Regions from separate parts of the Homo sapiens genome. Here region 2 is linked to region 1. The links come from fine-mapping of genetic effects on gene expression. A gene starts in region 1. The other region holds a variant in brackets. All regions are shown on one strand. Distances are between the middles of the regions.

Evidence for each region. PIP is the estimated chance that this variant, and not a neighbour inherited with it, causes the effect.
Region 2: its variant is fine-mapped to the expression of MYO18A in whole blood (TOPMed, PIP above 0.99).

Annotation. Positions count from the first base shown.
Region 1 is chr17:29,178,322-29,183,684 of GRCh38, reverse strand. MYO18A (myosin XVIIIA) reads left to right here and starts at 3,287. Exons shown (of 42, transcript NM_078471.4): 1 at 3,287-3,372. RefSeq lists silencers at 3,208-3,428, 3,394-3,443, 3,564-3,613.
Region 2 is chr17:29,137,347-29,142,709 of GRCh38, reverse strand. The region is part of intron 2 of MYO18A (myosin XVIIIA); the gene reads left to right. It overlaps LOC124903967 (a long non-coding RNA gene), which reads right to left and starts at 2,236. Exons shown (of 3, transcript XR_007065693.1): 1 at 2,184-2,236. RefSeq lists enhancers at 1,792-1,841, 1,992-2,081, 3,282-3,331, 3,024-4,007, 4,008-4,991 and a silencer at 2,542-2,591. The variant C/T (reference allele first, on the strand shown) is at 3,068.

The DNA of each region.
Region 1 (5,363 bases):
TACATTCTTGCTAGCATTTGGAGTTGTTGGCATTTCGGATTTTGGCCAAAATCCAAATTTAGGTAAATAAAGTAGTTTTACCTCATGGTCATCTTAATTTGCTATTCTCTTTTATTTTTTATTTATTATTATTTTTTGAGACGGAGTCTTGCTCTGTCACCCAGGCTGGAGTGCAGTGGTGCAATCTCGGCTCACTGCACCCTCTGCCTCCTGGGTTCAAGTGAATCTCCTGCCTCAGCCTCCTGAGTAGCTGGGACTACAGGTGCATGCCACCACACCAGGCTAATTTTTGTTCTTTTAGTAGAGACAGGGTTTCACCATGTAGGCCAGGATGGTCTGGATCTCTTGACCTCCTGATCCACCTGCCTCGGCCTCCCAAAGTGCTGGGATTACAGGCGTGAGCCACTGCACCTGGCTTTAATTTGCTATTCTCTAGTGACATACAATGTTGAGTATCTTTTCTTTTGCTTACTACTATCTGTATATCTTCTTTGGTAAGGTGTCTGATCAGGTTTTTTACCCATTTCTAAATTGGGTGGTTTTCTTATTGTTGAGTTTTTAAAACTCTTTGCATATTTTGGATAACAGTCCTTTATCAGATGTCTTTTGCATATTTTTAGTAGAGACGGGGTTTCACCATGTTAGCCAGGATGGTCTCGAGCTCCTGATCTCATGACACACCTGCCTCAGCCTCCCAAAGTGCTGGGATTACAGGCGTGAGCCACCGCACCTGGCTTTAATTTGCTATTCTCTAATGATATACAGTGTTGAATATCTTTTCTTTTGCTTACTGCTATCTGTATATCTTCTTTGGTAAGGTGTCTGATCAGGTTTTTTGCCCATTTCTAAATTGGGTGGTTCATTTTCTTATTGTTGAGTTTTTAAAACTCTGCGTATTTTGGATAACAATCCTTTATCAGATGTCTTTTGCATATATTTTATCCCAGTTGTGGCTTGTCTTCTCATTCTCTTGACAGTCTTTTGCAGAGCAGACATTTTTAATTTTAATGAAGCCCAGCTTATCAGCTCTTTCTTTTATGGTGCCTTTGGTGTTGTATCTAAAGAGTCATTGTGATACTCAAGGTCATCTAGGTTTTCTCCTATGTTATCCTCTAGGAGACAGTTTTATAGTTTTGTGTTTTACATTTAGGTATATAATCTATTCTGAGTTAATTTTTGTGAAGGGTATAAAGTCTGTGTCTAGACCCCCCCCTTTTTTTTTTTTTGCATGTGGATGTCCAGTTTGTTGAAAAGCCCCATGTGTTGAAAAGACTAAGCTTATATAATTTTCAAAACAAATTTTGAGGGAGGGAGTCACTGTTATTATCCCAATTTTTTGGATGAGCAAAGTGAAGCACAGAGAGGTGATTTATAAAAAATCACCCAGAGTAACACAGCTAGTACTTTACAGAACTGAGATTTTGAATCCAGGCAATCCAGCTCCAGAGTCCATGCACTCAACCCCTATCTATAATAATAATGTCTCCCTCATAGGTTCATTGTGAGGAGTAGAGATAGTGTCTAGTATATAATAGGTACTCAGGAAACACTAATGATAGTCGTTGTCCTACTTAGCCTGCAAGGTTCCGCTCAAATGTCATGTTTTTGGGGTTTTTTTTTTTTCTTTTTTGGAGACAGAGTCTTGCTCTGTCGCCCAGGCTGAAGTACAGTGGTGTAATCTCCGCTCACTGCAACCTCTGCTCCCCAGGTTCAAGAGATTCTCCTGCCTCAGCCTCCCAAGTAGCTGGGATTATAGACATGCACTACCACGCCTGGTTAATTTTTTGTATTTGTAGTAGTGATGGGGTTTCGCCATGTTGGCCAGGCTGGTCTTGAACGCTGGCCTCAAGTGATCTGCCCACCTCAGCCTCCCAAAGTGCTGGGATTACAGGCATAAGCCACCATGCCTGGCCTCAAATGTCATGTTTTTGAAGCTGCTCTTCTCACTCCTCAAGCCAAATAAGCCTCCCATCATAGCACCTATCTCATCATCCAAGTAATGCCAGCATGGTGAACCCTACTACTGTCACAGCTCAGGTCTACCTGTTCCCCATGTGATTTCCCTGGAGATATGCCATGTCTGATCTCCTTCTGTGTCACCCCAAGTGCCTGGGGCTGCACTTGGCACTTAGCAGGCAGTTTGTTAAATTGAATTTGAGTTGCATGTTATTCCAAAATGTGTATCCCGCCTGGGTCTATTCCTCAGGAACTCCCTAACTCTTACTCAACTCTCTGCTTTCTGAGCCTCCTTGCTCCAGCCTTCCCTGGTCTGTCAGGTTGGGCTGCCCTTGCCTGGAGAAGTTCCTGTTTGGGCTGTCTAGGGAGGTAGCAGCATTTGTCTGCTACACCCTTCTTCCTGCACCACCCCACTCAGTTTCTTCCACATTCTGGCACACCCCACTCCAGCATGGACACTGCCCAGGGAAGTGTCCCCATTTCTTTCTTTCTCCAAACTCTAGACATAGCACCTATCTTGGAGGCCTGGTATCTGGATGTCCCTTGGCCTCTCCCAGGAAGTATAAACTGTCTTCTTGGTGGGTACAGCAGCTCACTTGATATTTACAGCACACAGTGGACCCAGGGACAGACTGCATTCCAAAGAGCTTCTGAAAGTGTTAATCTTGGCATTGGTGAACTCCTTTAGGGAGTGAGTGGCACTTACAGCCATGGCTCCCGGGCCCTGGTACGCCTCTTGATCCACTCCATTTTGAGGCAGGGCTGTATCAGACCAAGCTATTGGGAGTCTGTTTTTACCTTGGGGAGTGCATTCTGGCAGTGCCATCTCGGACATGGCAGGCAGTACCTGGTCTGGACTGAGCCTGGGGCACCATCCAGCAGGGCCCTGTGTGTGCCTCTGCAGAGCCACCTTGGGAGGAGGCGGCCAGTAAGACTTAATTGCTTCCTTTAGACAGCACTACCTTGAACACAGCCTGCAGAGTTCGGTGCCTGCCTTGGACAGCCCCTCTTCTATACGTTCATCATGACCCTGGTGCCTGTCCTAGGCAGTGCCACTCAGCCCCTTTCGGACCCTTTTCGGACAGCCTCCAGTGCCCAGTGCAGACAGAAACTCCAGGCAGGGCCTCTCTCAGACACAGCGAGAGGGGCTTCGGAGTCCACAGCGGACGGAGGCTGCCAGGGCAGCGCCCGGCCCGCCTGGCCCACGTCTGGCGGCGCGCACTGGCGCTGCCAGGCAGGCCGGGCGTTTATCCCCACAGCCGCCAGCAGGGAGCTCCCTTTCGGCTCGGCCTGCGCGGTCGCTGGGGGCGGCGCTGAGCTGCGCCGCGCTGCGCTCTGCTCCATCCCTGACCGGGCCGAGGCTGCTGGATGCCGCGTCTCCGCTTCTGCTGCCTGCCGGGCGGGCTCCGGTGGCCGGTGAGTGCCGGTCGGCGGCGGCGGCCGCTCGGTGGCGGGCCCGGCTTGGTGGGGCGGCGGGGCGGGCTCCGGCCGGGAGGGAGGGCGGGCGGGCGGCGGGGCCCGCCGGCTCCTCCTCCTCCTCCCCCGTCCCCTGGAAGCAGCGGCCCGGACTCCCGGCTCCCGTCCCTGGCGGCGCCGTGGAGCTCGACGCCCGGGGGTGGGGGCCGATCGGGAGCGGCGGGGAAGGGGGAACCACCGGCCCTTCCAGCCAACCTGGGGGGCGCAGGGAGGCAGGACAGGGTGGCCTTCAGTGTGGGGGGATTTGGGGCTTGGAGGCGCCCAGGTGGCCCGGAGCTGCGGGGTGGGGGCTGCAGCCTCGAGGGTGGGGGGACTTCTCCTGCCCCCGTCCAGGCCCCACGATGGAGCGAGCGAGAGAGCGGGGCGCTGAGGAAGGCAGCGGGGAAGGGGAGCACCTCTACCGACCCTTTTATCCCTCCCAGCGGCCTTCACTCTTTCACTGCCGGGCAGACTGCGGGCTCCTCTCAAAGGAGCAGCTGCTAGACAGCTGGCAAAACAATGGAGACCCCGCTTCCCTGGGCCCCCTCCTCTTGGGACAGAAGATGAGAGGGTGAATGGTGGCAGGCTTTGGGGATTAGGGAGTGCAGGCTGTGCCCTGAGACTGAATGCTCACCTCACCTTTCCCTGCAGAGGGGTGGGGTGCGTGTGGGAAGGTCGGACAAGCTGCCCCAGGCCTCTGGAGAGACCGCCCCGACGCCCCGCCCTGCTAACCTGTCATGCCAGTTGTTTCGCCAATGGGAAGGGGAGGTGGTAGGGGTGGCTGCCCCCTCACCCTGCCCCTTGTTAGTGGGGGTGCGCTCCTTGGTCCCAAACCCGGCCAGGAGTGTGGGTCATGTTCCTGGGTGCGATAAGGCCCGCAGGGACAGGCCAGGCATTGGGGCTTTGTTTTGGGGGTGGAGATGGGGGAGTTGCCCTACTGCAAGGCACATGTGTCTTGCTGATTAGTTGGAAAGGTTGCGGCCAGAATGAGCTAGAGGTGGGGGGTGGGGGAGATGGGGAGGAAGACAGCCAGTTTGTTTTTGAGCGGGTATTCATTTTGCCTGACCACTTTGCCAATGGGGCATGTGTTTGGCGCTGGCCTCATAGTTTGTATTTGTGTGGGGAGGGCTGGGGGAATGCTTCCTGAGAGGGACTGTCCTGGCTAGGGCTTTCATTCCCTCAGATGGCCACCCCGAATTAAAGAATTGGATTCCCTCCCTGCTTCACCCTGCCAATGACTTGGGCTAGTTAGTGTGGGTTCGTCTTGTCTTTTGGAGCCCCTGGCGTGTCTGTGGCCGAGAAGGCCTCATCAGTGCCCCTGTGGCAAGTGAGCTCTGGGAAGTGTGTATGCACTGGGGTGTGCTGGAAGGGAGGGGAGGCCACCTGGGTGATTAAGAGCAAGATCACCTGAGCAGGACGGTGAGTACAGAGCCCATTGAATCAGCCGCCTTTCCCTTGTGCTTTGGAGCCCTTTTCTTGAGCAGGTTGGTGCCCTGTTGTTGTGGCAACAGGCCTGGCCTAATGTTCCCCACCCTTTTTAGTTCAGGGGCTACTTTCTATCTGGAGATATTGAAAGTTGCTCTCCTGAGGTCTCTGGCTTCCTGACAAGCCTCACTGGCTCTTTGTCCATGGCTTCCCACCTCCTCAGCTTCCTCTCTGTTTTTTTGTGATGAAGTCTTTCCAGGAAACATCCTCCTGGTTTCTGGATTTGACATGACGGGTTATATATAGCCTCGGGTGGAGGTGTGCTTGTCCATTTTGGGTTGAGGACATGGGGGTTGTGGCCTCAATTCCAGGAAAACCATGGCTTTGGGGGCAGCTATTGTGTTGAGGGATTAGGGGAATGAGAAGGGTTGTAGGTGGGGGTGGAGGGTGGGCATGGGAGGGGCCACAGGCTGGCGGTCACTTCCTTTGGGAGCTTTGAACTTTGAACAGTTGATGACCTGGTGCCT
Region 2 (5,363 bases), 41 kb after region 1:
ACCATGGTATGCTGTGAATCATTCCTTTCAAGCCGTGCTTCTCAGACTTTAATGTGCCTCAGCATCACCTGGAAGCCTAGTTAAAACACAGATGCTGCACCCCATATCCAGAGTTCTTGGTTCAGCAGGTCTGGGTTGGGTTCCTGGAATTTGCATTTCCAACAAGTCCCCAGGGGATGCCCACGCTGCTGGCCTGAGAACTTGGAGAACCAAAGCCCTTTCACATACATTATGTACCAGTCTCATACTGGTTGGGTAAGAGTCAGTAAAGGTGTAATCCTCATTTTACAGATAAGGGAAATTTAAGTCACCTGCCTGTGTTCACACAGCTAAATCATTCATTCATTCACTCATTCATTTAACAAATGGACATTTCTGTGCTAGGCCTTATGCTGGCCTTAGAGTCTTGCAGTTCTCAGCCTTGGCTGCATGTGAGAATCACCTGGGGAGCTTTTATCAATAAAAAATCCCAGTGTCCAGCCAGGCGCAGTGGCTCACGCCTGTAATTCCAGCACTCTGGGAGGCCAAGGCGGGCGGATCACGAGGTCAGGAGATTGAGACCACGGTGAAACCCCGTCTCTACTAAAAATACAAAAAATTAGCCGGGCATGGTGGCAGGCGCCTGTAGTCCCAGCTACTCGGGAGGCTGAGGCAGGAGAATGGCGTGAACCCGGGAGGCGGAGCTTGCAGTGAGCCGAGATCACGCCACTGCACTCCAGCCTGGGCGACAGAGCGAGACTCCGTCTCAAAAAAAAACAAAAACAAAAAAATCCCAGTGCCCAGGCCCCTGCTCCCAGACCAATTATGTCAGAAACTGAGAGGGAAAGGGTGGGCTCCAGGCATCAGTATTTTTTTCAAGTTCCCCAGTGGATTTCAGTGAGCAGCTGAGGCTGGCACCATTGTTCTAAGTAGCCACTGAAGATGTGAAGACCTGTGACACTGCACGTGCTTCAGAAGGGCCAGATGCTTCCCCTGGGGGGACATCCCACTCCCTAGAGAGCAGGACACAAGCGCCGTGTCCTAAGAGTCTGTGTATGTGACTATATGACAGTGAGACTTGGACAGCGCATGGCAGGTAGGAGGCAGGGCTGGGTTTCCATCCTCTCTGGCAGTGCTTACCAATCTTTTCATGGAGAAAGTCAGACAATGTATAGAACCAATGGCCCTTAGAGCTGGCCAGGGGCAAGAAGCATGGGGTGTATGCCAGACTGGTTAGGAGGCGGTTCTGTATCAGGGCTTCCTAGCACCACCCCCACCCCATTTTTTTTTTTTCCTAAAGAGGAAGAGGGAGGCAATGACTGTTTCCTTTTTTCTGCAGAGCTGACGGCTTCTGAGACTTGCTCTCCCTGTCTTTTGGCCCCTTGACATTCTGTTCTCCAGCTCCCATTTCAGCGTCTCAGCGGGTCCCTAGTCCTGGTCTAGGCATCCCATGGTGCTAACTGGAGAGCCAGGCCAGGATTTCTCTTCACAAGAAACACTGGCTTTTCACAGGCAGCCATCACTCATTGGCTAGACACCCATGACTTCCTCTGTCTGCAGGGCTGAGGCCCACCCCACCCTCCTCTCTGCCTGTGCAGTCCCTGGCGTCTGTGGAGGGGAGAGGGATGTAAACAAAGAGAGTGTAATTGATTCTCTGCATGTCCCCTGTGTGCTGATGGCAGTGGGGCAGTAAGTGGGCCTGCCCGTGTGGGTCTCTGCTCCTGCCAGACCTTACAGGACTGCTTTGCGGCTGCTGTTTGGGCACAGTGTGCAGTGGGCCCCGTGTGCTGTCTTGGATGTGACGTTAGTGGCTGTCTTGGCCTCTGCCGCAGTAATTAGATGGCTAGGGTAGGCCTATGATTTGGGTGTTCTCAAGAACACTGTGTTGATTGAATGTTCGTGCATGCTGGTGTGTGTGTGTGTGTGTGTATACGTGTACATGCACATGAGTGCGCATGTGCTTGTCTCAAGCTTGGCCTGTGGGGCCGGGGGCTGCAGGTCTCAAATTCCTCTGCTATTTTTAGGAGCCATATCAGCCCAGCTGTCCCGGAGCTGGGGTGTGTGTCCATAGGCAAGTCTCACCCTCCCTGTCCTTGCCCTAACCCCCTAACACTGCCTGCCCCCCACCCCAATGGCTTTACCCTAAGAGCCTTCTCCTTCCCTTCCACACACACTGCTGTATCACCCTCTCCCTCCTGGCATACCTGATACCCGAAGTCCTCCGGGCTGCTGGCTCCAACTAGGGCTGGGCAGCTCGGGACGGGAGGGGCCGGGGAGAGGGCGGGAACTGGGCGGGGCCACAGCCTGTGCTATTTTGAGCTGCTAACGGAGCCAGAGCAGCATCAGAGCGGAGTCTCCTTGCTCTGGGCTGCTCCAGGCCAGGCCATGCGGGTGAGTGTCCCTCTGACCCCCCACCCCGGAAATGTCCCAGGCTCCTCATGCTATTTCCTCATTTAGGAAAGGAGGGACCTTTTTGTGATTTCCCCAGATGTGGCTGAAGTAGGTGGGGAGAGGGGTGGGGCAGCCTTGGGGCTCCTCTCCGAGCTTCTTGGTAAGAAGGGAGTTACTCAGCCCCGGAAGCCTCAAAACCCCTCCGTGGCTAGGAGCAGGGCATCCTGGGCCTGACTCATGACTTCAGGAGTTTTGGAGGGGCACTGTCTTCTGAACCTCAGTTTCCTGGGGTTGCATCCACCCCCAAGGCTGTGACACGCCTTCCCCACCAACCATTAGTGCTTTTTTGGCCTTCATTCCTTAGAACACTGTTTTCTTCCAAAGCCCCAGCCCCACAGCACCCAAGGTCCTCGGTAGTCTTGTCTCTGCTTTGTTGCTGGTATAGCTCTTTCCTCTCTTCCTCCTTGAGAGGGGATGGTCCTTGGAGTTGTCAGGGAGCACCCTTCTCGCTGTCCCCAAGAGTAGTCTTAGCATGGCCACCTCCATTTCTGTGCATAGGACACTTGCAAGGGGCACAGATGGCGTGTTGGGGATGCTCTGACTGGCCCTAAGTCTCTTTTTTAGTAGAGATTACTCCAGATAAGTAAGTTCCTTAAAAAAGAAAGTGAGGAGAGACATAGCTGCTCCCAGTCCTTCC[C/T]GTTCCCCTGACTCTACCCCTCCCAGCCACCAAGGGTAAGGTTTTCAGTTGTGTCAGCAGTTGGCAGAGTACGTGGGCTGGCCTGGTGCGGAGGTGCATCAGGAGCCTGAGATGTACCCGTGAGTACTTGTATCTCTCTGTGCTCAGGACTGCCCTGCCTCAGCCCCCAAACTGGCACCAGGGCTGAGTTGTGTGGGCAGTATGCCCGGGGGTGGGGGAGAGGTCAGAGAGAGCTCCTCACCCTGAGAGATGGGCGCTTCCTGGTCTAGGGTACTCTCCCCCAGCCACCCCCGGGCCACTAGCACCAGGTCACAGATTTAGGGCCATGCACAGTGATATCCAAGCAGACAGCAAAGTGCCCTCCAGAGGGGCAGTGAGCATCCCCAGGGAAGGGGGGCCTCCAGCAGGTTCAGTCGTTGGAGGAGGAAACCAAGACCCTTCTGCAACTGCAGTTGCGGCAGGAAGCCATTCCAGTGCACCTGCTTCCTCTGGGCTGGCCTGCAGTGAGGCGGGTGCCCGGCTGCTTTCTGTTCCGCCCTGGGGCTGGGGAGGGCTCTGGCTGGAGGCTGGACTGCAAGGGCCAGGTTGTCCCTGCCAAGCTCATCTCCCCCTCCCCCGCTGTCTGGCAGCATGGCCTTCAGTTCATTCCTTAGAGAGCTTCCCTTCCTCTCAAGCAGTTCCACGTAAAGCATATTCAGGTTGGTGGGTGGAGGGGCGGGTCATCATTGGGAACCCCTGCTTTCCTCCCAAGCTGCTCTTCTGGCAGCTGATGTAGAAGGACAACAGTGCAGGTGAACCAGGGGAAATGGAGGGCAGGGCGTGCCTCCATCCCTTAAAGTGAGCAGTGGAGGGCTCTCGCAGGAGACCTGAGTGTGAGTCCCAGATCTGCCACTTGCTGCTGTGAGGCTTTGGGCGAGTCACCTGACCTTCTGAGCCTCCTTTTGCTCATTTGTAAAGTAGCAGTCACACAGTCACACTAGTATCTATTTCAGAGGGATGTTGTGAGGATCAAATGAGATGATTCATGTGAGGGATTCAGCACAGCACCTGACACATACCAAATGCTCAATAATGATTAACCGTTTTTTACTATTATGCTAGTATTTCTTCCCTTCTCCTTTGTTCCTGCCACCCTTCCTCGCCCTCAATCCCTAGATAAGTTGGTGCTAGGTTGGGACTGGGAGGAAGAAGTCTCCTGGGAGCTGCCCTCTGTGCCTCTGAATGGGAAAGAGGGAGGAGAGGAGAATGCCCTGCCTCTTGGTCCTCAGAAGGAGAAGCCTCCGGTGTGTGAGTGCTGTCAGAAGCGGCGAGGCGGGAAAGTGACCTCGGCCACCAGCTACGTCTCAGCTTCCTTTGGGCACTCTCTTGAGAGTTACCTGCTGCTCTCGGGGGCTTGCAGTGTGCAGATGTCTGGTGTGGATGCTTGGGCCTCAAAGCATTTGTCCAGGCCAGGCATTCCAGGCCTGAGGGGCTGCCTGAGGCGTGGCATTATTCTCCCAGGAGCATTTGTGCCCCCATTCCCTCCTGTGAGGGGCCCAGAGAGTGCAGGTTAAGGGCGGGTAGGCTCTGCTGGCATGGTGGAGGGTAAACCCCAGCTGCTCCCAGAGTGTCAGAAGCCTCCTGGGGCTGAGGCTTGACAGTCCCTCAGTACATTTCTTGGATTTCTCCTCTTTGAGAACAAATGCTTCTAGCTATTATCTCCTTTGCTTTTTTTTTGACTATTTAGCCATCTTCACAATAAAAATAAGCAGTAAGTAACAAATACATACCAAAATAAATACCAGGTGTTCATGTTGTGTCTAATTCACACAGTTTACAAGATTATTATGATCACTGTTTGTATACTATTTGGGTTCCAGTTTTTTTGATTGATGTCATTTTATATGGAGCTTTCCATATGGTTACATTGTCCACACATTTGTCAGTTTAAATGGCAATACAACAACGGGTTGTACCTAACCATTTCTTAATTCTAGGCATTTGGGCTCTTTCCAATTTGGAGCTGTTATATAGAGTGCATCTATAAAAATCTTTGCGTTTTTTTTCTTTTTCTTTCTTTAAGTCAGCTCACTGGACATACATTCCTGAAGATGGAATGGGTAGGCCAGAGGATGATGCATTTTGTGGCTATTGTTCACGAAGAGCTACTAAGCAATTTCAGTGTCCTTGCCCTCCCTGCAAACCCAGGCATTGAGTTCACTATGTATTTATTGTGAGCAGGTTTAGAGATTATACCTCCCTTGTTTGTACCATGTCCCTGGGAATCAGAATGGGCAAGTGTTGTTCTCTGTAGTTT